Homo sapiens: one gene and its partners. Each later gene encodes a partner of the first gene's protein in a complex. Each region holds a gene or a part of one and is shown in the gene's direction. Other genes may lie near its edges. The genes, in order: AXIN1, SIAH1 and GSK3B.

Region 1 (9,636 bases):
TCCACTAATAACACGTGGACTGTTTTGAGTCTTCTTGCCCTTTTTTTTTTTTTGAGATAGAGTCTCGCTCTGTCGCCCAGGCTGGAGTGCTGTGGCGCGATCTCAGCTCACTGCAACGTCCGCCTCCCGGGTTCAAGCGATTCTCCTGCCTCAGTGTCCCAAGTAGCTGGGATTACGGGCATGCGCCACCACGCCTGGCTAATTTTGTATTTTTAGTAGAGATGGGGTTTCTCCATGTTGGTCAGGCTGGTCTCGAACTCCCAGCCTCAGGCGATCTGCCTGCCTTGACCTCCCAAAGTGCTGGGATTACAGGCGTGAGCCACCACGCCTGGCCCAGTGTCAGGTCTTTCTCTCACCCAGACTGGAGTGGAGTGGCACCATCTCAGCTCACTGCAGCCTTGACCACTCGGGCTCAAGCCATCCTCTTGTCTCCGTGTACCTGGGACCACAGGTGCACGCCACCATGCCTGGCTAATTAAAAACAATGCTTCTATAGGGAAAGGGTCTTGCATTGTTGCCCAGGCTAATCTTAAACCGCTGACTTCAAGTGATCCTCCCGCCTCAGCCTCCCAAAGTGCTGGGATTACAGGTGTGAGCCACTGCGCCCCGCCCACATTTTCTATTTTCAGGAAAAGTGGTGCCCTGTGTGCGTGGCCTGGCGGCATGTCTCTGGGGTGTTGTAGCTCCTTGTTCTCTGTCGGGCTTGGGATGGGGGCACAGGCAGCATCTGGCCTCTCCTGTGGGCTCAGAACTGATGGAAAAAGAAGGCTCAGGGATGAGAGCTGGGGCTCGCCTTACAGCCTGGAAGGCGGTGGAGGGTGGTGGGGGCTCTGCCTGCGATGGAAAGTGCAGTCCTCCCTCGCCTGAACGGGATGGTCCAAGGCCTCCCTCCCCCTCGAGGGGCCTCCCTCCCCTCCAGCGGCCTCCCCTGCCTGCCCACTCCCACCTCTCACACCTATGGACTGAGCGGAGGGGGCAGAGAAGGGGCAGACTGGAAGAGGCTGAACCCAAGGCTTCCCTCAGCCTCCAGAACCCTGGATCAGAACCGTCCGTCCTCTTCCCCCGCTCCCCTTACACTGATGCAGGGTCGGTGGCTGCACAGTGTCCATCTCTGCAGCTGGCTGTCTCCATCACACATCGTACAGCGGCAAACACTCCCCAGCTAATGTCCTTGGGGTGTCTTCCAGGGTTTCCTTTGGGTCATTTTTTATAAGTGGTCTTCCTCAGTTAAATGGATAAACACACTTAAGGCATCAAAACTCACTTTATTATTTTCTTAATTTTTATTTCTTGGAGACACGGTCTTACTCTGTTGCCCAGGCTGACGTGTAGTGGCTCAATCACAGCTCACTAAAGCCTCCAACCGCTGGGTTCAAGTGATCCACCTGCCTCGCGCTCCCGAGTAGCTGAGACCATAGGTGCGCAACACCACGCCCAGCTAGTTTTTAAAAATTGTTTAGTAGAGACAAGGTCTCACTATGTTGCCCAGACTGGTCTTGAACTCCTAAGCTTAAGTGATCCTCTGGCCTTGGCCTCCCGAACTGCTAGGACTACGGGTGTGAGCCACCGTGCCTGGCCTTTTCTTTATTTTTATTTTTTTGAGACAGAGTCTCGCTCTGTCACCCAGGCTGGAGTGCAATGGGGCGATCTCAGCTCACTGCAACCTCTGCCTCCCAGGTTCAAGCAATTATCCTGCCTCAGCCTCCTGAGTAGCTGGGACTACAGGTGTGCGCCACCACGCCTGGCTAATTTTTCTATTTTTAGTAGAGATGGGGTTTCACCATGTTGGTCAGGCTGGTCTCGAACTCCTTACTTCGTGATCCACCTGCATCGGCCTCCCAAAGTGCTGGGATTACAGGCGTGAGCCACCGCTCCGGGCCAGCCACTTTATTTTCAAGGTATTCCTTTTAGGCTGGGCATGGTGGCTTGGGCCCGTAATCCCAGCACTTCGGGAGGCCAACGCAGGTGGATCCCTTGAGCTCAGGAGTTAGAGACCGGCCTGGGCAACATGATGAAACCCTGTCTCTAGCAAAAATACAAACAATTAGTGGGGTGTGGTGGCACACGCCTGTAATCCCAGTTACTCGGGAGGCTGAGGTGGGAAGATCACTTGAGCATGGTAGGTGGAGGCTGCAGTGAGCCAAAATCACGCCACTGGGCTCCAGCCTGGGCAACAGAATGAAACTCCGTCTCCAAAAACCAACAAACAAAAAAACATACCTTTTATGTCTACATTGAAGAAAATAATTCCATGTCTGCTCTTAAGTGTCTCATTTGGTGCCTAGAAACAAAACCTGATTAAATGTCATCTACGGTCAATCAAATAAAAGCCTTCGTGGCAAACTCACGCTCGAAGCAAAGGGCGTTTGCCTCTTCAAGGAGCTCTGTGAGGAAGGGAGGTGGCTGAACCTCACCCTGCACACCACAGGCCCCCGCGCGCCTCCCTGCCCCTCCTCAGGGCCTTCCTCTACCTCTCTTCTGCCTGGCCTGCCTCTGGTCTCCTCCTACCCCCACTAGGCTCAGAGAATCTCCCCTCCACACCCACACCACAACCTACTTTAGAAGGGCTGCTGCATTTCCTCCAGGCTTTCTGACCCCCTTCCTGTCCCTGCAGGGCAGGGGCCCCGAGGAGCTGGAGGCCCAAGGGCCTTGTTCTGGTCCCAGGGCCTGGGGACACCTGCCACCGAGGGCCAAGAGGAGGATGGACGTGGACACAGCCCCGAGAGCCTGGCCCGGACACAGCAGCAGCTCTGCAGAACCAAGGCAAGCATTGGGGACCTTGTTGGGAGTCGGGGGGCAGCCCAGGGGCCAGTGTCTGAGGTCCTGCTGTCTGTCTGGCCACCCAGGACTCCCTCATCCCTGGAAACTGTGCTTTACCATGGAGGCCACCCACTCTGTCTCCTCTAAGGTTCTGAGGCTGAATGGGCTAGGGGGCTTGCGGGGAGGCCCCAGTGTCCAGCACTGTGGGACCTGGCAGGGTGCCTGCGGCCAGGACCCAGCGGGGCCAGGTGTTGGTCTAACAGTGCAGCTTCGTTCATATCCCCAGCCCCTGCCCACCTGCTCTGAGCACAGTGATGGCCCTGGGAGGTGGGCCTGGGCCCTTGGCAGGCTGGGGACAGCCTAGTGGCCCTTGTCCCATGCTACCCCCTTTCCCACACAGCGATGCTGGCATCAGACACCATGCTGAGTGCTGGCAGGGGCGAGGGCTGGGAGGCTTCCACACATGGTTCCCCATGCAGTCCCACCTGTGGGCATCTGGTTGGGGGTAGGCTGGAAGCTCGGGGAGCCTGGAGCTGGGACTTCTGTGCTTGCCTGGGAGCTCTGAAGGGTGAGGCTGGGCATCCAGGGTGACACAGCCCAGGGAAAGACATGGGGGTGACGTGAGAGGTGCCTGGAGGGAGCTGGCAGGTATGGACATGATGGACACGGAAGCACGGAGGCGGGCAAGTGGCCAGACGCATCTAGGGGAAGGTGTGGGGGAGGCGCCCTTAGGAAGGGCCCTGAAGGGCTGTGGGCAGCAGGGAGCCCTGGGAGGCCTAAAGCAGAGGGCAGATAGATGAGGGCTGTTGTCTCAGGTGTGGGGCGGACGAGGTGGGGAGCCCTCACCCAACAGGAGGCGAGCTGGTCCTGTGTGGCCTGAACTGCAGCTGTCTCCTCTGTGAAACGGGGGTATAGCTGACCCCAGGGGGCTGCCTGGAGCATCCCGGGAGGTGCCAGGCCCAATAGTGCTCTGGGAAGGACAGGGCCCTGGGCTGTTGTGGGAGGCGGCAGATCCTGGTACTCACATCCTCCTCCTTGGGGAGGGCCTGATGGTTGGCTGAGGCCTGGGTGGAGAGCAGAGGGTTGGTTCTGACAGGGTTGGGCTGGCCAGAGCTGGTGCTGGGGCTGCTGCTGGGGGCCCGTGCCTCTCTGCCGTGGGGTGCCTGGGGCTGTGACCTCATGCTCTGTGGCCTGCAGGGCAAGTGACACGGATCTGGGCAGCCAGGGTGGCAGGATCGGACTGGACCCCTTGGCAGGGCCGCTGTGGAGACAGCCCAGGGGAAGGGGTGCAGGGGTCTGGACACTCCAATGGCCTTGCTCTCGGGCTGGCCTGGGCAGCGGAGGGAAGGAGAACCCTTCTCTGATACTAGATGGTGCCTGGGAGAAATCAAGGCAGAGGGTCCTAGCCGGTGGGCTCTTTGGAGGTTGTGGCTCCTGTCCGGGTGAGAGCCACCATATATTGGGGCCTAACGTGTTCCCTGGCGCTGTGAGTCCAGGCTGCCTTGGGACTCAGGAGGGTGGAGCCCACCCCACCTTCCAAGGGCCCTGGCCATCCCTGCCTGCCGACCACCCCACTCCTGGGAGCCTGCTTCCCTCACGGCGGCGGGCAGGCCGTGGCGGTCCCCACGAGGGCCTCCTCTCCAGGGCCGGCTGGGCAGGGAGCCCCGAGGCCTGCAGCCCCCTGACTGCCCTCCGATGTACTGGCGGCAGAAAAGGGCTGCGCCCCACGTGCGCCCTTCGGGGCGCGCAGTCCGCCCAGTGCTCCCCACGGCCGCGGCCATTCCAAGGACCTGCAACGCCGCCTCTCCCACTCCGCTCTCTGGGAAGCCAAAGCCTCCCGGGCTCCGCTTCCGCACCGCCCCTCGGGAAGACGGCGCGACCGCGCCCCCGGCACGCCCCGCCCCCGGCAGGCACTGACCACGCCCTCTCCCGGCCATGCAGAGACCCCGGCCCATGTTTCTCAACTCGTCTTCTCGCTTCCGGCCCCGCCCCGCGCCGGAGGCCCCGCCCCACGCTCTTTACCTCTTCTGCTCGAGGCGGGCCCCGCCTTACTCCCTGGTCCCCGCCCCACGCCCGAGGCCCCGCCCCGAGCTCTTCACCTCGTCTTCTCGCTTCCGGCCCCGCCCACGCCCCGGCCCCGCCCCGCGCTCCTCACCTGTCCCCTCGCTGTCGGCCCCGCCCCACGCTCCTCACTTTATCCTCGCGCTTTCAGCCCCGCCCCGCGCCTGAAGCCCCGCCCCACACCCTTTACCTCGTCCCCGCGCTGCCGGCCCCGCCCCGTGTTGAGGCCCCGCCCCGCGCTCTCACCTCGTCCCCGCGCCCCGGCCCCGCCCCCGCACTTCCGGACGCCGCCGGCGGGGGCGCTCGGGCCTGGGCTTCGGCGCTCTGGCTCGGGCTCTGGCTCGGGAGGCGATCGTGGCCGCTGCCGCCGCCAGAGCCGGCCGGAGTCGGCCCGGAGCCGCGTCCACGCGGAGCGGGCGGGTGGGAGCTGGCGGCTGGGCCCCTGCGGCGCCCCCGCGGCCTGCCCCGCGTCCGCCTCCGGGCCGCCGAGCCGCAGCCGCCGAGATGGGGGCCGCCCCGGGCCGCGCCCCCGCCGGGTCCCGCCCGCCGCGCTGCCGCTGAGCGCATGGGCCCGGACCGCGCCGCGCCGCTCCGGGAGCCGGGCCCGGGGTCCCGCCACCACCGCGCGCGGGTGAGTAGGGCCGGGCTCCGGGGCGGGCTAGGCCGCGGTAGGCCGGGCGGGCGGGACCCGGAAGCGGCGGGGGGCGCGGGTGGCTGACGCGCGTGGGACCGAGGGGGTGGGCGCGCGGGGAGCTGGGGCCGGGGTGTCCCTGGGCAGCGGGACTGGCGGCGCGGTGGCCGCTTGGAGGTCCGAGGCCTCGGGCGCGTCTCGGGGCACGGAGCAGCTGCAGGGGCCGCGCATCGCGTGCGGGGGCCCGGGAGAGCCGGGCCTGGAGCCCTCCCCGCCGCCCAGAAGTCGGCGGGAGTCCGGCTGTCCCGGAGGAGGACACTCCCGCCCGCCCTCGCCGAGGCCGCGTGCCGGGTCCGGGTCGGGGTTCGGCCTGAGTAGCCGCGTGCTCCGGCGTCCGTACCCTCCAGGTTGATGCCTTGCTGCCCAAACACTGGTCTTTCTCTTGGGTGTGGTTCTTAGATTCTACCCCCGCCCCGCACTTTGGAATTTAGCCCCCGTGAAACCAGAGCTGCACTGCCCGAGCAGTGAAACTTTCAGCTTGGCATTGAAGAAAGTAGAGAAAAACATGTCAGTTCTCTGGGGATTTTTCTCAGCCCATCTATAAGATATATATATATATATTTTTTGTAGAGATGGGGTGTCACTATATTGCCCAGCAGGTGTTGAATTCTTGGCCTCAAGCGATCCACCTGCCTCAGCCTTCCAAGGTGTTGGGACTACAGGGGTGACCACCGTCCTCTAAGATAATTTTTTTTTTTTGAGACGGAGTCTCGCACTGTAGCCCAGGCTGGAGTGCAGTGGCGCTATCTTGGCTCACTGCAACCTCCGCCTCCCGGGTTCAAGCAGTTTTCCTGCCTCAGCCGCCTGAGTAGCTGGGATAACAGGCATGCGCCACCACATCCGGCTAATTTTTGTATTTTTAGTAGAGACAGGGTTTCACCATGTTGACCAGGCTGGCCTGGAACTCCTGACCTCAGGTGATCTGCCCACTTTGGCCTACCAAAGTGTTGGGATTACAGGCGTGAGCCACCGCGCCTGGCCCCTTCTAAGATAATTTATAAAGGGTTCTTATGTGCATGTCAGCCCCTTGTTTTTGCTCACACTTCTGTTCTCTGCTTCTTCAGGAAGAATCTCGAGCTTACTTGGATCCACAGGCCCTATTTTGGAGAAAACACAGTCTAAACCGGCTACCCGAGATACTCAGCAATAGCTCGGTTTCAGTTTTTTTTTTTTTTTGAGACAGAGTTTTGCTCTTGTTGCCCAGGCTGGAGTCCAATGGCGTGATCTCCGCTCACCGCATCCTCCGCCTCCCAGGTTCAAGCGATTCTCCTGCCTCAGCCTTCCCAAGTAGCTGGGATTATAGGCATGCGCCACCAAGCCTGACTAATTTTGTATTTTTAGTAGAGATGGGGTTTCTGTATGTGGGTCAGGATGGTCTTGAACTCCCGACCTCAGGTGATCCGCCCACCTCGGCCTCCCAAAGTGCTGGGATTACAGGCGTGAGCCACCTCACCTGGCTTTGGTTTCAGTTTTAAGATCTCCATTCAGGGACAAGGATGGGAAAGCATGAAAAACAGACTGTTTTTGTTTGATTTTCAGCTGGTGTTGACTTGTCTTGGGTTTCTAGTTTCAGAAAAGCTAAGCAGACTTTTTCGGATTACATTGGTCATTGAGAATTTCAGTGATGGGGGAATAAATTACATGTGAAATAGTAGCCCTGAACCTTCAAGAGTTAAATCAATGGACAGCTGGGAAGATGTCAGAGTCGTGTTGTGTTACTTGCCTCCTCCATGTAAATCAAAATGTCAAAAGTTACGTTTGGGTAAAATAAATACCTACACACGTAGGTAGCATTGAGTTTGCTGCCATGATGCCTGGAGCATATGCCTAAGCGGTGACGAAAGGGAATTTTAAATACAGTATCATACTTGTAGGCATCCCGCCCGTTTTATGGACTCACTTTATTGATGGTAGCTACAGGCTGTGGGCCAGATTCAGTGCTTGCAGGCATTTGATACTGAACTGAGTAAACGTGACTGCTTTATGTGTGGTGTGTACTTGTGTGTACACTAAATGCTTGGTGTGCTTCCCTGTGGGAACCCAGAGATTTCAGGAATTGGGACATGTTTCAACAACATCAGTAGCTTGTAGAGGGGTTCATGTGCTTCCAGGGACACCAAAAAGTCTTCTGTCAGTTGACAGCCAAAAATACACATGATTGTAAGAAAATTTTCTTCTGGGCTCTGAAAATTTGGTTCACACATGAATTAAAACATTAGTTTTGGGGCCAGGCAAAGTGGCCTGTAATCCCAACACTTTGGGAGGCCGAGGCGGGTGGATTGCTTTGAGCTCAGGAGTTTGAGACCAGCCTGGCCAACGTGGTGAAACCCAAAATACAGTAATTAGCCGGGCGTTGATGACTCGTGCCTGTAGTCCCCGCCACTTGAGAGGCTGAGGCTGGAGAATTGCTTGAGCCTGGGAAGCTGAGGCTGCAGTGAGCTGAGATCGCCCCACTGCAGTCCAGCCTAGGCGACAGAGCGAGACCCTGTCTCAAAATAACAAAAAACAAAACAACAAAACCCATTAGTTTTGGAAGAATTTGCTGCTGTTTTCTGTGGTACAGTAGTTCAGCCCCTGTAGAGAGCCAGTGTTTGGCGTCTGTGACAAATGTCTTTTCTTTTTTACATCAGTGAATGACTTACTGGTGCCCGTTAGTTGCAGGACCTTGTGCTGGGTGCTGTGGGTCCCGCTACTACCAATAATTAACACAGAAGACTTAAGTCCCTTATGAGAGCATGATGGTGACTTGTGGTTAGCCTCCCTTCTGAGCACTGTCTGATTAATCACTTTCCACTCTCCGGTGACTTGGTTCTTCAAGCTAGTGAATGGTAGTACATCTATAGTGGTAAGGCTCAGGTGGTCAGGGTGCAGGCCTTCTTTCCTGTGATGGCGTCCCAGACAGATGACCGTGAGCTAGTGTGGAGGTGCCCACGCCCAGGGTGCTCCCTCCATGCTGATGTGGCTCACGGAGTGACTGCCGCTGAAGTGGTCTGTGAGCAGCAGGATGTCACAGCTCACTGGGCCTTGACCTTTAGAAGCTGTGTGTTCCTGCTGAGGCCAAGATGACATACTACCCAGCAGCGTTCACAAAAAGTCCTTAGCTGCTGAAATGTCATTGGGGGCACATAGTTGCAAACCATCCTCCATCTATGGGTGCTTCTTATTTATTTACTAATTTTATTTTATTTTATTTTATTTTATTTTTTTGAGACAGAGTCTCACTCTGTCGCCCAAGCTGGAGTGCAGTGGCCGGCGCGGTGTCGGCTCACTGCAAGCTCTGCCTCCCGGGTTCATGCCATTCTCCCACGTCAGTCTCCCGAGTAGCTGGGACTGCAGGTGCCCACCACCATGCCTGGCTAATTTTTTGTATTTTTAGTAGAGATGGGGTTTCACCGTGTTAGCCAGGATGGTCTCGATCTCTTGACCTCGTGATCCGCCCGCCTTGGCTTCCCAAAGTGCTGGGATTACAGGTGTGAGCCACTGTGCCCGGCCTATTTTTTTTTTAGAGACAGGATCTTGCTCTGTTGCCCAGGCTGGAGTGCAGTGGGGTGCGATTATAGCTCACTGCAGCCTTGAACTCCTGGGTCAAGTGATCCTCTTGCCTCAGTCTTCCAAGTAGCTGAGACTACAGGCATACGCTACCATACCCGGCTAATTAAGAACTGTTTTTTGGTAGAGATTGGGTCTCACTATGTTGCCCAGGTTAGTCTTGAACTCTTGGGCTCAAGGGATCCTCCAGCCTCAGCCTCCTGAGTAGCTGGGACTACAGGTGCGTGACACCACGCCTGGCTCTGTGGATCCTTCGTGCTTCCAGCCGTGAGCAGCTGTTGGCTGGTAAAGTGTGTGCAATGTGAGGAAGTTGGTGTGGGGGACAGATTCCACATAGACAAGGGACAGCAGTGTGGAGTGGTGGCTGGGGGATAGATCCCCCTTCAGTTGGTCCTGGGTTTTAGGGTTTTATTTGTTTGCTGTGACTTGTTCAGCACTCTAGGCTTTTGAACCCAACATGCTTCTCTAAAGCCCTCTCTCCAGCCCCTTTTAGCCAGGACCACTTACATCATGGCAGGCTGTTGTTTCAGTCACCTGCATGGCCGGGTTGACAGGCATAGCCAGAGCTCCTGGGC
Region 2 (9,877 bases), about 48 Mb from region 1:
ATCATGTTTCTCCTCAGCTGTAAGACACGATGAATGAGGAAGGAGCAAAGGCTCTGGGGCCAGACGGACCTGGATGTTAACTTCCACACCTCCACTTATTAGTACATGCCATGGGAAAGTTCTTTATCCTTTCTGAGTTTCCATTTCCTCATCTGTAAAATGGGAAAGCAGTGCTCACTTCATATATTTGTTAGTATTAAATTAAGTAACCCGCCTGGCACGGTGGTTCACACCTGTAATCCCAGCACTTTGGGAGGCAGAGGCGGGCAGATCACGAGGTCAAGAGATCGAGACCATCCTGGCTAACACAGTGAAACCCCATCTCTACTAAAAATACAAAAAATTAGCCAGGCGTGGTGGCGGGCGCCTGTAGTCCCAGCTCCTCGGGAGACTGAGGCAGGAGAATGGCGTGAACCCGGGAGGCGGAGCTTGCAGTGAGCCGAGATCACGCCACTGCACTCCAGCCTAGGTGACAGAGCGAGACTCCGTCTCAAAAAAAAAAAAAATTAAGTAACCCATGAACTTGTGCGTGTGTTAAGCATTTCTTGAATGCTAAATGTTTCTAAATGCTAGTTTCTCCAAGATAATTTGGAAAGAAAGTCAAATATCTACTAACAATGAATGAAAGGATGTAAAAGAGAAACTGGAAACAGATTCCATAGACCGTGATAGTTAAGGGCATGGTCCTTGTTTAATATTTCTTCATTTGCTCAACAAAAATGTTGAGGGCCCTTTATGTGTCAGCCACTGTGCTAGGCATAGATGGAAATACAGACATGCACCCTGCCCTCCAGGGATTTATTCTACTTATTGCCATGTCATAGCAGTTCAACAAATACTTAAATTTTTTAAAAAGGCTAAGGCCGCGCATGGTAGTTCACGCCTATAATCCCAGCACTTGGGGAGGCCGAGATGGGCAGATGGCTTGAGCTCAGGAGTTTGAGACCAGCCTGGGCAACATGGTGAAACCCTGTCTCCACCAAAAATACAAAAAAATTAGCTGGGCACAGTGGCACGCACCTGTGTTTCCAGCTACTCAGGAGGCTGAGGTGGGAGGATTGCTTGAGCCTGGGAGGCAGAGGTTGCAGTGACCAAGATCTCACCAGTGCACTCCAACCTGGGTGACAGAGTAAGACTCCGTCTTGGAAAAAAAAAAAAAAAAGAAAAAAGAAAAAGGCTAAATTCTGACAAGTGTAAAGAAAAGATTTGGATCCATGGAAATGAGCATCTGTGGGTTGGGCATGAGGCAGGGGTTGTACCTAATGCACTGGACAGTTATCACTGCATTCCAATGAACTCAAGAACAACAATTACTTAAACTAATTGTCAGTATCACCTACTTCCACCAGCTACATAAAAACCTCAATGATTTTCTAATTTTTTTTTTTGATACAAGGATCTTGCTCTGTTGCCCAGGCTGGAGTGCAGTGGTGTGATCTCTGCTCACTGCAACCTCCACCTCCTGGGTTCAAGTGATTGTCCTGCCTCAGCCTCCCGAGTAGCTGAGATTACAGGCATCCACCACCACACCTGGCTAATTTTTGTAGTTTTAGTAGAGACGAAGTTTCACCATGTTGGCCAGGCTGGTCTCCAAATCCTGACCTCAGGTGATCTGCAGGCATTGGCCTCCTAAAGTGCTGGGATTACAGGCGTGAGCCACCGTGCCCGGCTCTAACTTCTTGAAAAATGTGATGCCTAGCATGTAACCTTTTTCCTAAAGAAACTTGATTATATTGAAGGAAAACTACAGTTATGGGCGAACTCATTTCCCAACCACTTGGGCTTTTGGGAACTTCCTTCAGCTACTTCCTGTTTCATTCTTGGATGCTCATGTTGTGTCTCTAACTTCTCCACCATGTCCAGGAAAATTTGTTTGGGATACTGTTTAACACATTCACCAACCTCAGACAGTGACTGGCAACAGGTGTGTCTGATAAAGAAAACATTGTTTCTGCTCTGCTGTAGGCATGTCTGACAAGTTGGGGACCTGCTTTCCTTTGCAAAGCTTATAGGAGTCTATTTGGGAGGGAGGAACCGCCTTCCAGTTTCCAGGCTGAAAAAGATTCTGTTTCGCTACCAGCAGAGCCAGGCTTGGAAGGGAATGCTAATATGTTTCCAGACCTATCCACCTAAGCTGAATGACAAATGGGTATCAGTGGTTTAATGTAAGAGGAGATAGCTATAGTTTCCTGGGCAAGAGACATCTGTGATTGCCTGGAAACAAACACAGCCCATCGGTGATTCAATAGATGGGTTTGGTCTTGTGAACTGGTCTATTGTAAAATAACTATATTGACATGAAGACACTTGGAAATCATCTGTTCAGTCTTAACTAGTTTAGCCAACTTTGACAGCATTATCTGAGAGGCTGAGGCACAAGAATCGCTTGAACCCAGGAGATGGAGGTTGCAGTGAGCCGAGATTACAAAATAAATAAATAAATAAATATCAATTTAATATAAATTCATAGCAAAACCCCCAAATAAAGATACTCTCATCAGTGCCTGTTTTATTTATTCATTTATTTTTATGTTTTTAGAGATGGAGTGTCCCTCTGTCACCCAGATGGGAGTGCAGGGGCACAATCATAGCTCACTATGGCCTCAAATTCCCAGGTTCAAGCAATCCTCTCATTTTGGCCTCCTGATTAGATGAGATTACAGGCGCACACCACCCTGCCGGGCTAATTTTTAAACTTTTTATAGGGACGGGGTCTTGCTATGTTCTTAGGTTGGTCTGGAACTTCTGGGCCTCAAGCGATCCTCTTGCCTTGGCCTCCCAAAGTGCTGGGATTACAGGTGTGAGCCACCGTGCCTGGCCAGTGCCTGTTTTATTCATAAGAGGAAAGTAATTTACATCACTGGTACCTTAACTACGGGCCAGATGCAGGACCAGAGCGTTATGTTCCATTGCAATAGATGGAATTACCATTTGATGTGATTTGAGGGGACCAGGAAGGCTCCCTATCCAGATGTGGCCTGAAAATATTTGTCACCGTTACTGAAATCCCATCAATTGGAGGATTATTTGGATAGGCTTTACAGTTTACAAAATGCTTTTCTATGGATAAACTGTCAAGGAAGCAGAGTCAACTCCCTGTTCAGAAAAGGTGCTTAGTTACCCCCACAGTGGAGCTATTTTCTTTCAAATGGAAGGTACATTTTTTTGAGAGGGGGAGTAAATTAAATTTATAATGGTGATGTTTATGTCCCACCCATAGCTACCACCCAGAATTAACCAAATCAGATTGAGCCCCGCCCAAATCTAGGTAGGAATTCTCAGAGATGGAATTAACCCGATTAAATTTGTTTTGTATAAAAGGGAAGTGGGGAAAGTAAGAAGTAACTTGGACTCTTCTAGAGGAGAGCAGGCACAAACTAAGCCAAGAAAAGCACGTTTGAGAATTCCAGAGGCAGAAGTTGCTTCTGGGTGCCTGACGTCAACGATCCAGCACTTCAAGACTGGTGTGCGGCATCCTCAGGGGACACTGTGTCCTGGGCACCCCTGCAGTTTAAGAGAATCCACTAGTTTATAAGGTAAGTCCTCGACTGTCAGCAGTGGGCCAGAGACAGACTGTTATTTTCAGATGGACAAATGCTGTTGGGTAGAGGAAGGGATGCGGGATAAGGAGGACAAAATCTGACTTTGGCAAAGCCGGGTGTTTAGAACTTTAATCGCCACGTTGGCAAGTTCTCTCTTAGTCCGTATCCATTTCACTGCTTGCAGAGCGGCCCAGGGGTTCTGGGGGCGAGAAACACATCTCACCCCAGAGCTGCTCCTCGCCCAGGACAGAACTCCTCTGCCCTTCACGACCAGGTCAAGGCCACATGGCTATGCCAAGCACATAGTCTGTAAAAATGGAAAATTTACCTCTAAACTGAAGTGAACCGAACTCTATTGACCTTCCCGTGTACTGAGGAGCTATAACTTCTCCCCAAAAATGTGAAAGTAAAATTGCAGTTTAAATCATGTAATTAGGAATACTGTAAACTAGTGTTTTGCACATATAAACTTTATCATACACTGGGAATTTGTACATACGTGCCCGGTATGGGATTTTTCTATTTTTATTTTTATTTTTTTGAGACAGAGTCTCGCTCTGTTGTCCAGGCTGGAGTGCAATGGCCTGATCTCTGCCTCACTGCAACCTCTGCCTCCCGGGTTCAAGCGATTCTCCTGCCTCAGCCTCCGAGTAGCTGGGACTACAGGCGTGCACCACCACGCCCGGCTAATTTTTGTATTTTTAGTAGAGATAGGGTTTCACCATGTTGGCCAGGCTACTCTCGAACTCCTGACCTCAGGTAATCCATCGGCCTCGGCCTCCCTAAGTGCTGGGATTACAGGCGTGAGCCACCGCGTCCGGACGGAATACCATTTTAATAGATCTTACATGGAATTCCAGTTAGGGCTTGTAAATGTCTCAGATGCTTGCTTCTGCTCATAGCACCCATCAAAGAATTGCAAGTGATGTTTTCCTTTTATTATTTCAAGAAGTGGAATGCAGAGTCCCTAATTAGGGACTTTCCAGATGAGCATGGACACAGGAAAACGCGTGCTTCCCCATTACCCACTTTTCAGCTGAAACAAGCTTTTGAAGCTCGTCCCGCTGTTGCTGAGGAGCGGCTCAACCTCGGGAGAGGCTGGGACTCTCTTTAGGGGTGGGGTCCCGGTCGGCGGGCAGGGCAGCCGCTTTTTCTTTGGGACTGAGTGGAGTTGGGAAGGATCCGTGGAGGCGCTGGGCTAAATCAGCAGACAAAACAAGGGGGAGGGCACAAGGCCGCGGCGGCGGCCAGCCTGGGGCTCGCATCCCGCTGGGCGACCCCTCCGGCCGGAGCCGGGGGGGTCACGCGGCCCCGGAACAAAGCGCCGCGGGAGGAGCTGCCCTGAGCCGACGGGCAAGCGCTAGCTTCTCGCGGGCCAGAGCGCCACGTGCCAGGATCCGTTGAATGCGCGGTGCACGGGCGCAGCAACGGTAGCCGAGTAGCCCCCGCACCTACTGCCGCCTTTGGAGACCCGCACAGCTACGCCCGCGGAGGCCGCCGCCGGCCGCGCCAACGCCTGTGCGCCTGCGCGCCCGCGAAAGCCCCGCCCCCCCAGGCTCCCAGCGCGCGGGGCCGCGCCTCCTCATGGCCGCCGCCGCAGTGTGTGGTATTTAGCGGGGGCGCGCGGCGGGCTCGAGGACGCGCGAAACGGCGGCGGCGGCGGCGGCCAGGGGGGAGCCGGGGCGGCCGTTGCGGGGCGCGCTCTCGAGAGGCGGCGGCGGCCCAGGGTGTCCCGTCGGTCTCGGCGCCGGGAAGAGGCGGTGGCGCTGCCCGCGGTGGCGGGGGTTGGCGACGGAGCGCGTTGGTGCCAGGACCGGGGTCCGAGGCGCGCTCTCCGCCCACAGGTAAGTGGGGCCCGGCCTGAGGGAGGAGCCGGCGGCGAGGGGCTCTCCGACAGGCGGGCGCCCAGGCCCGGTAATGGCGGAGGGCGGGAAGGGCGGCCCGGCCGGGGCGCGGGCAGTAGTCGGCGCGGCGGCGCCTTTGTCTCGGCCGGAGTCGGGCCGCCCGGTCGAGCGCCGCCCCCCGCCCCTCCCCTGCCTTCAGCCTTCGCAAGCCGGCTCGCCCCCGCCCCTGGAGCCCCGGGCCCGGCGGGGTGGCGGCGGGGGTCGGCCCCGCGCGGCCGGGCCGAGGGCGGGGGAAGGGCCTCGGCGGCGGCCCGGCCCCCGCGCGCCCGGGAGGCGGGCCCGGCCGGGGGTGGCGCCCGGCGCGCCCCGCGCCCTCGTGCCGGCCTTTGTTGTGGAGGGTCCCGGGGTGTGCGGCCAACATGGCGGAGGTCAGCTGAGTGCGGGCAGCTGCCGGGGCCCTGCCCTCCCTCCCCCTCCTCCCCGCGGCGCCCGGAGGCCCGGGCCGCACCGCGCCGCTCGGCGGGCCTCGGCCTCCGCTCTCTGCCCCCGACCCCCGGCTGGAGCCGTCCGGGACGGGGCTGCGCTCTTCCTGCCGCTTCGGCCGGAGGCTTCATTGTGCAGTGGGAAGAATGCAGCCTCCTCCCTTGTTTATGTCGTTAGAGAGGAGAGCGCGTGAACGGCGTGCCGGGGAAGCTCTAGCTTATTATAAACCTGGCATTTCCTAGGGTTCATTTGCCGGGTAGTTTGGGGTCCTTTCTTAACTCTCCCAAATTTATAACTTAAAGTGAATAACCTGGGCCACTCCGATGCGTAGGTTCGTTTTCGCTGTCTGCCCGTTCCTGGAAAGATACATAATTTGTTTGCTCGGACATTCAGAAAAGTCCAGCTTGGGTGTTCGGAAAATCAGATTGTGTGTACTTCTTTTGCCAAAGTCATAGAGGCCATAAACAAACAGAGAGACATGGATACTGGATATGGGACGGTGTTCTGACTGTCCCTTCCTAGCAGTTGAGCATTTACCTTTGCTTATAGCGGCTGTCAAGGGTAAATTGTTAACTCTTCAGCAGTTGGATGTTGAGAGCACGGGCTGTGAAGTCCGACTGTCTGCTTTGGGTCAAATCCTGCTCCACTGGTTTGTGACCTTGGGCAGATACTTCTCTGTGCTTCGCTTTCCTTATCTGCAAAATGGGTGTAACGACAGTATCTACCTCAAGCCCTGTTGAGAATTGATGAGATGACAATAGGTGGACTGAAAGCAGTGGCAGCCCCATACTAAGTTCTCAACAAATGCTTACTGTTAAGACTGTAGTTTAATAGCTAAACTTACGAGGTTTTCTTGGCATGATGTGTTGGTATGATGAAAGTGCATAGACCAGAATTTGTGAAATCAGGTCACAGATCTTTAGTGCTGGGTTTTTTCTTTCAATGCATTTTGTTGTTAAAAAGGACAAGGAGATTTGTATGATAAATTAACAGACTTTCTGAGATGGTGGCATTTTGGAAATTGCTGTGGCCGGGGATTTGAATGGCTATATCTTTGTGATTAAAAAAAATCAAATTGATTAAAATGAGGTCTTCTCTTAGCTAGTTTAGATTTATTGATCAGTTCACTTTCAAGGACTTGAGTTAACCAACTTAGAAAAGTGGGACAGTGAATACTTGAGTGTGTATCTATGGTGTTACCATCACTTTTAGAAGTTACTGAAGAGCAGAATGTAGTGTGGTGGCAAATGTAATGGTCTGGTAATTTTATCTGGGAGTTGTTGGCTCAAATTATGGTGGAGAGGATTTTAATTAGTTGTTAGGAGGACTTTAGACTGGTAGATCTTGAGACTCAAAGTAGATTACACAAATTGGTTGTGTAGTGTTTCATTCTGAAAATTTAAATAAAGATACAGATTTCTGTAATCTTGGATGGTTAGTTGCGATTATATCCAGAATTTGTTCCCCAAAGTTTATGCCAAACAGTTTTTTTTTCGTTATTGGCATCTTTCCAACATAATTTACTAACATTTAATATTTTAAACTGAAATACGTATAATAGATGTGAAACTGATAACTTTTCAGGATAAGTATTCCACAAAGTACAAATTCAGAAACAATGTTAATGCATTTTACATCTGTTAAATATTAATCTATTCCCTCTAAGCTTCGGGAAGTTCTTACGAAATTGCTGTAGAGAAATATTCTTTCTTAATATCTGTAATTAAAAAGCATGATTAGGTTAAATTGGAGTTATGAAGGAATTATCTAGCTATGTCAGTAATGACATAAAATAACAAATAGGATTTTCAGTGAGTATGGTGTTTTGAAAACAGATCTTACATAACTAGGGTAACAAAGTTTAGTAATTTACAGAGTTTTAGGTGACTGCTTAAATTGTATTTTTAAGCAGTTGATTTACAAAATTTTTAAAGATTGGAGGTTCTTTGTTTAAAGAGATTTATTAACAGAATTTTGTGGAATTTCCATATTCGCTTTGTGAAATGTTAAAATCTAGATATTTTTTGTACAGCCCTCTCTTTCAACAAAATCTGTATGAAATCCCCAGAACCTTCCATCCCCCCGCCAAAAAAGGAAATTTTCCTTTTTACAATAAGTATCCTTAATAGTATTCTTCAAAATAGCAGGATGTCTAATGCACTTTAAATGATTTAGTTCCCATGGCTATAGTTACTAGAATATCTGCTGCATAAGGGCAAGAATTGTGTTTTTAATATATATCCTCAGTACCTAGTGCTCAGTAGGTATTTGTTTACTCACCTACTACTGTGCGTATTCTAATGACATTCAGATCTTTATTTTTATTTTTATTTTTTTTTGAGATAGTCTTGCTATGTTGCCCAGGCTGGAGTGCAGTGGTGATGTCATAGCTTATTGTGGCCTCCAACTGGGCTCAAAGGTTCCCCCCACCTTAGCCTCATAAGTGGCTGGGACTAGGAGCATGTGCCATCACACTGGGCTAATTTTTTAAAAAGTTATTTTGTAGAGACCAGGTCAGGTCTCGCCATCTTGCCTAGGCTGGTCACAAACTCCTGGGCTCAAGTAATCCGCCCACCTCGGACTCCCAAAGTGCTGAGATTACAGGTGTGAGCTGCTGTGCCTGGCCTCCAATCTTTTTGCCTGCTGAGATGTAGACCCATATATCCCCTTATGCAGATTTTTTTAATTGACTTTATTTTTTAGAGCAGCATTAGGTTCATAGCAACTTGAGTAGAAGAGACAAGAGATTTCGCGTGTAGCCCCTGCCCCTACACGTGTAACCTCCTCCATTATCAACATTCCCCGCCAAAGTGGTACGTTTGTTACAATTGAGGAACCTACATTGACACACCATTATTACCCAAAGATTATAGTGGCGTACATTTTATGGGTTTAGACAAATACATAATGACATACATGAATGCTTTCACCACCCTAGAAATCCTCTGACTTCCACCTATTTGTCCCCACACCCCCAACCACTTATCTTCTTTCTTTTATTGTCACCATAGTTTTGCCTTTTCCAGAATGTCATATGTGTAACTGGGCTTTTAAAATATGTAGCCTTTTCACATTGGCTTCTTTCACTTAGTAATATGCATTTAGGTTTCCTCCACGTCTTTATGGCTTGGTAATTCATTTCTTTAGGGCTGCATAATAATCTGTTGTCTAGATGTACCACAGTTGGTTTATCCATTCACCTACTGAAGGATGTCTTGGTTGGCTTCGAAGTCTTGGCAATTCTGAATAAAGCTGCTGTAAACGTCCATTTGCAGGTTTTTGTGTGGCCATGAGTTTGTAACTCCTTTGGGTAAATGCCAAGGAATGTGATTGCTGGATCAGATAGTAAGAGTTTAGTTGTTTTGCTGCTGTTTTTTTGAGACAGTCTCACTCTGTGCCCTGGGGTGGAGTACAGTGGCACAATCTCAGCTCACTGCAACTTCCACCTCCTGGGTTCAAGTGATTCTCGTGCCTCAGTCTCCTGAGTAGCTGGGATTACAGGCGCCTGCCATGACGCCCAGCTAATTTTTGGATTTTTAGTAGAGGCAGGGTTTCAACATGTCGGCCAGGCTGGTCTTGATCTCCTGACCTCAGGTGATCTGCCTGTCTTAGCCTCCCAAAGTGAAGAGTATCTTTAGTTTTGTAAGAAATTGCCAAACTGTCTTCCAGATTGGCTGTACCATTTTGCATTCCTACAAGCAATGAATGAGCGTTCCTGTTGCTCTGTATCCTCGGCCGGATTTGGAGCTACCACTGTTCTGGATTTTAGCCGTTCTTTTTTTTTTTTTTTTTGAGACGGAGTCTCACTCTGTCGCCCAGGCTGGAGTGCAATGGCGTGATCTCGGCTCATTGCAACCTCCACATCCCAGGTTCAAGTGATTTCTCCTGCCTCAGCCTCCTGAGTAGCTGGGATTAGAGGCATACACCACCACGCCCGGCTAATTTTTCTTTTTACTTTTAGTAGAGACGGGGTTTTGCCATGCTGGCCAGGTCAGTCTCGAACTCCTG
Region 3 (9,795 bases), on another chromosome or scaffold:
AAATCTGACCGTTCCCGATTTACAGCTACTGAGGGCCTAAAATATTTGTTCTGAGAATTTCTCAGGCCTATATTTATTACATTTTAATGCACATAAAACAAAGCTGAATTCCTAGAATTTGCTGTAAAGAAGTATACTTCAAGTATTCAATCAACACATACTGTTTTCAATTCATTTATTCAATGTGAAAATATTTACACTCTTGTATAAAAAAGCTCTTTTCAAAAAATGTGAATGGAAATGAGGTAAAATAAATAAAATTGAAGTAGTTCAAAATAATCTAATCGGTAATAATATAGTAAACCACATGATTATACCCTTAGAAGTAAACATGTGACAAGCATGAAAAACTAAAAGGATTTGTTAGAGGCATGTGAACCAGAGCAACTCCATCTTAAACAGGAGCCGGGCAAAATGAGGGTGAAATCTATTGGGCTGCATTCCCAGATGGTCAGTTAAGGCATTCTAAGTCACAGGATGAGATAGGAGGTCAGCACAAAATACAGGTCTTAAAGACCTTGCTGATAAAACAGGTTGCAGTAAAGGAGCTGGCCAAAACCCACCAAAACCAAAATGGCGACGAGAGTGACCTCTGGTCGTCCTCACTGCTACACTCCCACCAGTGCCATGACAGTTTACAAATGTGCCATGACAGTTTAGACCCTATGTGGTCCAAAAAGGGGAGGCATGATTAATCCACTCCTTGGTTAGCATATCATCAAGAAACGACCATAAAGAATGGGCAACCAGGCCAGGTGCGGTGGCTTATGCCTGTAATCCCAGTACTTTGGGAGGCCAAGGCGGGCAGATCAACTGAGGTCGGAAGTTCAAGACCAACCTGACCAACATGGAGAAACCCTCACTCTACTAAAAACACAAAATTAGCCGGGCGTGGTGGCGCATGCCTGTAATCTCAGCTACTCGGGAGGCTGAGGCAGAATTGCTTGAACCTGGGAGGTGGAGGTTGTGGTGAGCCGAGATCACGCCATTGCACTCCAGCCTGGGCAACAAGAACGAAAACTCCATCTCAAAGGAAAAAAAAAAAAGGGCAACCAGCAGCCCTCAGGGCTGCTCTATGTAGTAGCCATTCTGTTATTCCTTCATTTTCTTAATACTTGCTTTGACTTTTGCACTGTGGGGTCACCCTGAATTCTTTCTTGTGTGAGATCCAAGAACCCTCTCCTGGGGTCTGGATCATGACCCGTTTCCTGTAACAGATTCAAGTGTTTTTCTTTTATTTTCTATAGTATACTCCTTTAAGATGTCAAAATCAGAGTATTTATATAATTTGCCAAAGGCTTGATATGCAACTTTTCATACAACCAGTCTATTTCACAGTGACAGTGTTTCAAACACTCTCCCTCTTCTTTTTGGGTAGTCATTCATTAATTTCCCATTTGGGCACACCTCACTGGTTATAAGACACATAACCAACTATGCCACATCTTGTTACTCTGGGCATATTTTCAGCAACAGGAAAAACCACAGTGTATGTTACTTCAGAGGCTTTCCTATAATGGTAATGTCTTACATCTGCTAAAGTACCTCTCCACTGTCTACAGGACAAAGCCCAGTTTTTTTTTTTTTTTTTTCCTGTAACAAAGCTCCCTCAAACCTACCTTTTCAACCTTATCTTCCATTAGTCTTCTCTATCAGCTTTTTGTTCCAGCCAAACTGGTTTTCCCAAAGTCAGAAGAACAGAGTCACACTGTCCTTAATTGCTGTTACAGCTCCACCCACATGCAGGTTTACTAAAGAGAGGTTTTATCTGATGGGTTGAAATTGAAGTGATGGAAAGTAATTTACCTCCCCTCTTCTTTCTTCATCTTCAAATCCTACTACTCCTCCTTTAAGATCACTTTAGATTGAAGTGTCCTCCACTCACCTATTATAAATAGGAATGCATGGGCAATTTATTTTAAACTTTGTAGTAACAACCATATTAACAAATTATAGGCCAGGCATGGTGACTCACGCCAGTAATCCTAGCGTTTTGAGAAGCCATGGCACGCAGATTTTGAGCCCAGGAGTTTGAGACCAGTCTGGGCAACATGGCGAAACCCCATTTATACAAAAAATACAAAAATTAGCTGGGTGTGGTGGTGCACCCTTGTAGTCCTAGCTACTTGGGGGGCTGAGGCAGCAGGATCCCTTGAACCTGGGAGGTTGAGGCCGCAGCACTCCAGCCTGGAGGACAAAGTGAGACCCTGTCTCAAAAAAATAAATAAAAACCAAATTATGTTCTGTCTCATAACTTTTATCAATTCAAAATGTGATTTTTATAATTTATTTAACTTTTCATGTAGTTGCTTCCCTAGAGGGTAAACTCCCAAAGGACACTGATCCTCTCATCCACCTTATATCAGATGCCTAGCAGGTGTCTCAAATATAATACTTACTCACTATTGTCTAGTTTTACTATTTTAACTTATATGACAAAGGATTATCATAAAAATTTTCGTTGGAAAGCTTTGCTGAGAAATGTGAATTTTTTTTAAGAATTCCATTGTAATTAGAGGCTTCTGAGGGACATGTGAATCATAGTGAAGAAATAATATAAATGTTATTTTTTGGGCCAATTCCCCTTAAAATCAAACACAGAGGTGGGGTACAGTGGCTTACACCTGTAATCCCAGCTACTTAGGAGGCTGAGGTGGGAGGACTGCTTGAGCCCAGAAGTTCAAGGCCATAGTGAGCTATGACTGTGCTACTGCACTCCATCCTGGATAACAGTGAGATTAAAAGATAAATAAAAGTAAAAAAATAGAAATTTATTATAAAAATACTAAGCAAAGACATTTAAATATTTTCATTTATATTTAAATATGTTATTGACGAGTTATTCTAATTTGTCTTCCTTTCCAATCTTGATCCAAATGTACTTATATTTTACAGATTGGAAATATGGTAGATATACAACCTGAAGTTCTATATTTTTCAATTAGTATTGTTTCCTAAACATATTTCTGAGTTACTTTTGGTGGTTGTATTTATTTTTACTGGCTGCCTAATATGGAGTTAATACAGCATAGTTTACTTTACTCCTCTATTATCCTGTGATATTTTCCTTTATTTTCTCTTGGCCCACATCTTAGACATTACATAATTTCAAACTATCTCAAGGTCTCCAAATACCTTGTTAAACATTTCAGCCATTGCATAACCTTTTCTCTTTGCCTGGAATGTTCTTTCCTTCCTTATCCATCTGTACAACTGTACAACTATTCTTTGTCTAAACTAGTGGTTCATAAACTTTTTTTTTTTTTTTTTTTTTGAGACGGAGTTTTGCTCTTGTTGCCTTGGCTGGAGTGCAATGGTGCGATCTCAGCTCACTGCAACCTCCACCTCCTGGGTTCAAGCAATTATCCTGCCTCAGCCTCCCAAGTAACTGGTATTATAGACGCCCGCCACCACGCCCAGCTAAGTTTTAAAGTTTTAGTAGAGACGGGGTTTCACCATGATGACCAGGCTAGTCTTGAACTCCTAACCTCAGGCGATCCACCTGCCTCGGCCTCCCAAATTGCTGGGATTACAGTCATAAGCCACCACTCCTGGCTTGTCCATAAACTCTTGATCTTGAGCTAACATGATATGCACATTATAAGATACACACAGAAATAAAAAAAGGATTAAAGGTGCACTATTTTAAAGATAAATTTCAACCGGCCCGGTGTGGTGGCTTACGCCTGTAATCCTGACACTCTGTGAGGCTGAGGCAGGCAGATCACCTGAGGTCGGGAGTTCGAGACCAGCCTGACCAACATGAAGAAACCCCGTCTCTACTAAAAATACAAAAGTAGCTGGCATGGTGGCACATGCCTGTGATCCCAACTACTTGGGAGGCTGAGGCAGGAGAATCACTTGAATCGGGGAGGCGGAGGTTGCGGTGAGCCGAGATCGCGCCACTGCACTCCAGCCTGGGCAACAAGAGTGAAACTCCGTCTCAAAAATAAATAAATAAATAAAGATACATTTCAATTATTTAAGGTCCCAAACCATTTTGTTTTCACCCTCCTACTGCTATCGGGCCCCTAACAATTATTAACACTTTTTCCAATGCCTCATTGGCCAAGGGATGTTTTTAGGTTGGCCTGCAGGGTTTGAAAATTTGGTTACCAACATTTAAAAATGCAGAGATTTCACACAAAAATCCAATTTTGGGGTTTCTTTTGGGAGGAAAAAAATTGAACATCTGAGAACACTGGACCCACATTCCTGAGGGCAACAATCTGCTAGAGTTGAGCAGCTGTTCCTTTTAGTTATGGCATGGATATTCCAATTTGCCATTTTCCCTATCATTCCCCATTGTCTTACACAAGGCCAGTCTCACTCATTTGCTTTACTTGTCTGGCCTCTGTAGCCATTTGAATCTGCAAACACTATCTAGACCTTTCCTGTCTTCCATCAAAGCTTACTTTGTTCTGTCCCAAGTCCTTCATCAGTGTTTCAAAGCAAGAGCCAGGTAATCTGATCAAATATAGGTCCTTTAACATGTGCTTTCTGGAGACAGCATCTTAACAGAAAGAGATGACTCTGCAGGTAGAAATTACAGGCACCACTGGATTACAATCAGGATGGCAACTGTCTGTTCTACTTTCTCTGTTATCTTGACGTAGCCATACCTCACTGTTCTAAAGCAGACCAAAGGAACTGGTTCTATGGTAGAACAATGGACGCTGGTCTTATGTATGAAATCTTCTCAAGCTGCACTTTTATAGATCACCCTAGTTCCAAAAGATCCAAAGCTACCACGGGCTCCTCTGACCCCCCCATTTCCTCGGAGGCTTCAGGATATCCGGCCTGACGGCATTTCCCCTCACCTGCTTTCGGGGCCCGTTTTGCGCTGGGCAGTTGCGCCCAAGGAGCGCGCGCATCCAGCATGAGCTCATTTCTCATGGGCGTTTCCAGAGGCCCGGCCGGGCCGCGCACACCAAGCGCAGCAAGCCTCTGTATCAATGGCCCCCGCGGCTGGGCGGGGCGCGGCCGCCCAAAGGCGCTGCCTTTCTGGAAGCTTTGTTCCCATTTTAGCGTCTGAGAGCTTGCAGCCGGCTGGGAAGGCCCCCTTGGTCCGTCTGGCCCTTTCGGGGAAGAGGCCAACACTCGGCACACGCGATCCACGGCAGAGGGGAGCCTTGGGCGCGCAGAATTGGCTGCGCCCCGCCGAGAGCCTCCTGTGGGTGGGGAGAGCCCCTCCACCCCTCTGCTCGCTTGAGCGCTCAGAGCCCAGGGCCGCCGACCGCAGCACTTTCCGATTTGCTGCACCGAGGGCCCGCGGTCCCTGTGTGCGGTTTCCACCGTTGTTGGAGGCGGCCGCAGGCGAACCGTCGGGTCGTCAGCCACGACCCGAGTCAGGCATCTCCCCGCTCCTGGGACCGGGGCCGAAGGCCAATCACACTGCAGCTAGGTCTTGCGATTGGACGGCAGTGAGAGCCGATTGGCCGCCGCCGCGAGTTTCGGGCTCCCTCCCTCTCCCTTTTGCCCCAACTCCAGCGCCTAAGCTTCAGGCCAATGAGACAGCGCTTTATAGACGCCCTCCCTTCGCTTTCTTCTCCCCACCTTGGAGAGGGAGGGGAAGTCCTGACTGGCCAGACTGTCCTCGGAAGCCCCCTTCTCTTCACCAATCACCGAAGGAGGTACGCTCCCAGCGGAGTTTTCCAGCCAATCACAAAGCGGCGGCGGCGCCCAGCCGTGCAGTTTCACCAGCGTCTCTGGGTTTCACCGTCCTCAACTCTTCAAGCCTCTTCGTAAGGGCCGGCGACTCTGATTGGCCACTGTTGCCATTGTCGAATGTCTCCTCCAGCCAGCCACCGAACAAGGCGAATTCACCCTTTCCGTTCGGCTACCTTCGGCATTTTCCGCTCTTTGGGCGTGGCTTCCCAGCGTCACTTTCTAATTGGTTTCTCAGGCTGATCGGCTTTTTCCGGGAGGAGCCGCAAACAAACGACGTCCGTGATTGGCTCCGTTCGGGCTTCGGCTCCCAGCCGAAGCGGGCGAGCGTGGGGCTCGGCCGGCGATTCCCAGACGCCTGTTACGCGGGCGGCGGGGCGCTGGGCGGTGTAAGGCTGGGTGGGGGAGGAAGGAGGTGGAGGACGAGTAGGAGGGGGGAGGAGGAGTGGGGAAGTGCAAGGCGGCTGCGCAGACAGCGCTCCTCACACAGAGCAGCTCCTGACCCGGGCGAATGCGGGCTTGTGCCGCCGCCGCCGCCGCCGCCGCCCGGGCCAAGTGACAAAGGAAGGAAGGAAGCGAGGAGGAGCCGGCCCCGCAGCCGCTGACAGGGCTCTGGGCTGGGGCAAAGCGCGGACACTTCCTGAGCGGGCACCGAGCAGAGCCGAGGGGCGGGAGGGCGGCCGAGCTGTTGCCGCGGACGGGGGAGGGGGCCCCGAGGGACGGAAGCGGTTGCCGGGTTCCCATGTCCCCGGCGAATGGGGAACAGTCGAGGAGCCGCTGCCTGGGGTCTGAAGGGAGCTGCCTCCGCCACCGCCATGGCCGCTGGATCCAGCCGCCGCCTGCAGCTGCTCCTGGCGCAATGAGGAGAGGAGCCGCCGCCACCGCCACCGCCCGCCTCTGACTGACTCGCGACTCCGCCGCCCTCTAGTTCGCCGGGCCCCTGCCGTCAGCCCGCCGGATCCCGCGGCTTGCCGGAGCTGCAGCGTTTCCCGTCGCATCTCCGAGCCACCCCCTCCCTCCCTCTCCCTCCCTCCTACCCATCCCCCTTTCTCTTCAAGCGTGAGACTCGTGATCCTTCCGCCGCTTCCCTTCTTCATTGACTCGGAAAAAAAATCCCCGAGGAAAATATAATATTCGAAGTACTCATTTTCAATCAAGTATTTGCCCCCGTTTCACGTGATACATATTTTTTTAGGATTTGCCCTCTCTTTTCTCTCCTCCCAGGAAAGGGAGGGGAAAGAATTGTATTTTTTCCCAAGTCCTAAATCATCTATATGTTAAATATCCGTGCCGATCTGTCTTGAAGGAGAAATATATCGCTTGTTTTGTTTTTTATAGTATACAAAAGGAGTGAAAAGCCAAGAGGACGAAGTCTTTTTCTTTTTCTTCTGTGGGAGAACTTAATGCTGCATTTATCGTTAACCTAACACCCCAACATAAAGACAAAAGGAAGAAAAGGAGGAAGGAAGGAAAAGGTGATTCGCGAAGAGAGTGATCATGTCAGGGCGGCCCAGAACCACCTCCTTTGCGGAGAGCTGCAAGCCGGTGCAGCAGCCTTCAGCTTTTGGCAGCATGAAAGTTAGCAGTGAGTATTGGTTTTATTTTACACCCCTTTTCCACCTCGCCCTTAAAATAAGAAACCTCGAAATACCAGGATCTGAAATTATTAGACCTCCTGATAAACAGGCAATGGAAAAGGGCAAAACCTATCTTCAGTCAAGGATGAAGCAGCTCCCTTTTTACTCCTCCCATACCCCCTCCCCCGGTCTCATTAACCTTGAATTGAGATAATATGATATTTATTTGGATGATTCGATTTCAAACTGCTTTCTTGTACTTTTCTTGCTGTTGGTAGTCAGTTTCATCAAGTGCTCGAGTGTTTCCACGTTAAAGTAGTGATGACAGTGTTTACTTGCCCATCCTTTAGAATAAAGAGAAGGACAAGATTTGATTACTAAACCATTATGCACATTTGCAGAATTTTTGGAATTTGGAATGAGAGAATATTTTAGGTCTCAGGGGTTATCATAGTTTGATATACTTAATAGAGACGTTAAATGTCCCACCCTCCCAACATTTTTTTCTTGTTTGTATGACTACACATAATATTTGTTCTTAATCTGTGGATGAACTTCCTCAGTAACCATTCACATTTGGAGGCTGCCATTGATTTCTCTCTTTAGAAGGGACTAGTGGGAGCCAATAAATACCTAGCAGCAGTAACATCTCTGTATGCATTTGTGTTCAATTGGATAAGTGGTTTGATGTGTTATCTCTTAACCTTCCTGTTTTGACATTACCAACCTGCCACCGTATAATTTATGTTTAATCAAAAGTTAACTTGGAAGTATTAATAGGTCCAAGTTTTGATTGAGATTTGTTTTGTCATAGTGCCAAATACTAAGTTAAATGTTGTCACTGGCTCATTACATTTAAGTTCAATTTTGGAGTGCTACTGCATTCATTACCTGTTAAATGTTCTGGCGGGTTCCTTAAAAAGGACGATTTAAAACACTCTAGCGTTAGTTTCCATCATATTTAGATAACTGTGGATTTAGTTAGAAGAATGTGGATTTAGTCCTTTCCATTTTGGCTTTTGCAGATGGCTATGGTCCTAGAAATAATAGGGATATTTGGGCTGTGTTCAGGGTTGTGGATAGACTACTCTTGTCCTGGGTTTGTGCTGAAAAGTATGCTCTTGAAGTGTTTAATATATACTAAGTATCTAATGTTCCAGTGTATCTCTATTTATGGAGAAGTTCATGTGGTATTTAATGATAGCTTGTTTAAACATACTTGCAGAATTTAACAAAAATATCTATATTGTTTCCTTATTGTGGGAAAGAGGGGCATCATGAGGGCAAAGACAAATTAATTTGTTGCCTAGAAGAACTGAGAGAACTAAAGAACTGAGATTTTAAGAACCCACACACACGCAAAACATGATGTTATGTGAAATTGATTATATTCTTAGGCAACATAAAATGATCACTTTTAGTTGAACTCAAGATTTCAATTCATGTTGGCTTTGGGAACTAGCCTGAAACAGGGTAGTCTAGGTAATAGCTGAATGGGAGATAATTTTTGAAAGTTAATTTTTTTTTTTTCTTGTGGCTTGCAAGTAGAGAATGCCCGGGTAGGTAAAGAGGAAAGCTGATTATGCATCTTTCAGGGAAGGGTCGTGCTTTCTAAGCACTTCATGGAGTGATTTGAAAAATATTTTAAAATTCCGGGGTAATTTTCAGCTATGATGATACAAATCTTATAATAGCTACTTAAGAGCCTCTTGTGGTACTGGAGTGTTTGTATGTTTTACATCTTGGTAATATAGTTTGAAAATCAGTCAGTCTATTTCAGCTAATTGATTTATTAGCTTTATTTCAGAGATCTGTAATGCTAGATTATAATGCTACATTTTGGGACTTTTCATTTTCTTTTCAGGATTTTCTTTGAAAATGACTCTTGAATTCTTGGTAATACAGATACTAACTAAGGATGGAGTAACTCTTGTAAAATATATAGATGAAAATGTTTAATTCCGATTACCATATAGGTCAATTTAGAATTTTAAAAGTTGGAGTTTAGTGTTAATTATGTGTTTTTGACAGCTTTGACTTTAAAAGCATTTAAAAGAAAGGGGAGTCTTTAAGCATTTGTTAGGATGCTAGCATTCTAAGGAACCCCTGTTGAAAACAGACATAAGAAATTGTAGTCCTTGCTCTCAAAAGCTTATCCTTTAGTTGTAGAGGGAGGCTATGGGGAAAAAAAAATTAAAACAATAGCGTGATGACTGCAAGATTGTAAAATACAAATTGAATCATTTGTTCAGAGTGGCAAAGAGTAAAGGGGTGAGACTGATGGTTGGGAGAGGAAAGACTTCCTGCGGACAAGGTGTATTAGGACTGATGTTAAAGGAGGTGGTAACTTGAACTGGTAGAAAAGCATGAAAGGTCTAGGTGGAAGGAGTGTACCAAGGAACAATGATGGTGAGTTTTGCATGAGAGACAATAATCAAGTTGACAAATCTGAATTAAAGGGGCCTAAATAAGAACATAAGAACAGATGGAATTTGAGAAATAAGAGAAAGTTAGCTGATGGAGGGCAGAGGGGTTCTGTACAAGTTTGATT

The links.
Region 2: the proteins of AXIN1 (region 1) and SIAH1 are in contact, whole or in part, in a crystal structure (PDB 5WZZ), measured with the Homo sapiens proteins. Residues at the interface, in NP_003493.1 of Homo sapiens: Pro378, Lys379, Glu380, Val381, Arg382, Val383, Glu384, Pro385, Gln386, Lys387; in NP_003022.3 of Homo sapiens: Cys130, Pro131, Ser154, Thr156, Leu158, Asp162, Ile163, Val164, Phe165, Leu166, Ala167, Thr168, Asp169, Val176, Asp177, Trp178, Val179, Met180, Asn272.
Region 3: the proteins of AXIN1 (region 1) and GSK3B are in contact, whole or in part, in a crystal structure (PDB 4B7T), measured with the Homo sapiens proteins. Residues at the interface, in NP_003493.1 of Homo sapiens: Glu384, Pro385, Gln386, Phe388, Ala389, Glu391, Leu392, Ile393, Arg395, Leu396, Glu397, Val399, Gln400; in NP_001139628.1 of Homo sapiens: Ile228, Phe229, Val263, Asp264, Leu266, Val267, Ile270, Lys271, Asn287, Tyr288, Phe291, Lys292, Phe293, Pro294, Gln295, Ile296.

What each region holds. Positions count from the first base shown.
Region 1 is NC_000016.10:348,185-357,820, reverse strand, and holds the start of AXIN1 (axin-1), read left to right. Parts: upstream 1-5,097; 5' UTR 5,098-5,386; coding exon of another isoform or gene 5,387-5,452; intron 5,453-9,636. UniProt on the Homo sapiens protein: Component of the beta-catenin destruction complex required for regulating CTNNB1 levels through phosphorylation and ubiquitination, and modulating Wnt-signaling.
Region 2 is NC_000016.10:48,380,713-48,390,589, reverse strand, and holds the start of SIAH1 (E3 ubiquitin-protein ligase SIAH1), read left to right. Parts: upstream 1-5,176; 5' UTR 5,177-5,386; intron 5,387-5,720; exon of another isoform or gene 5,721-5,814; intron 5,815-9,877. UniProt on the Homo sapiens protein: E3 ubiquitin-protein ligase that mediates ubiquitination and subsequent proteasomal degradation of target proteins.
Region 3 is NC_000003.12:120,090,804-120,100,598, reverse strand, and holds the start of GSK3B (glycogen synthase kinase-3 beta), read left to right. Parts: upstream 1-6,151; 5' UTR 6,152-7,164; coding exon 7,165-7,252; intron 7,253-9,795. UniProt on the Homo sapiens protein: Constitutively active protein kinase that acts as a negative regulator in the hormonal control of glucose homeostasis, Wnt signaling and regulation of transcription factors and microtubules, by phosphorylating and inactivating glycogen synthase (GYS1 or GYS2), EIF2B, CTNNB1/beta-catenin, APC, AXIN1, DPYSL2/CRMP2, JUN, NFATC1/NFATC, MAPT/TAU and MACF1.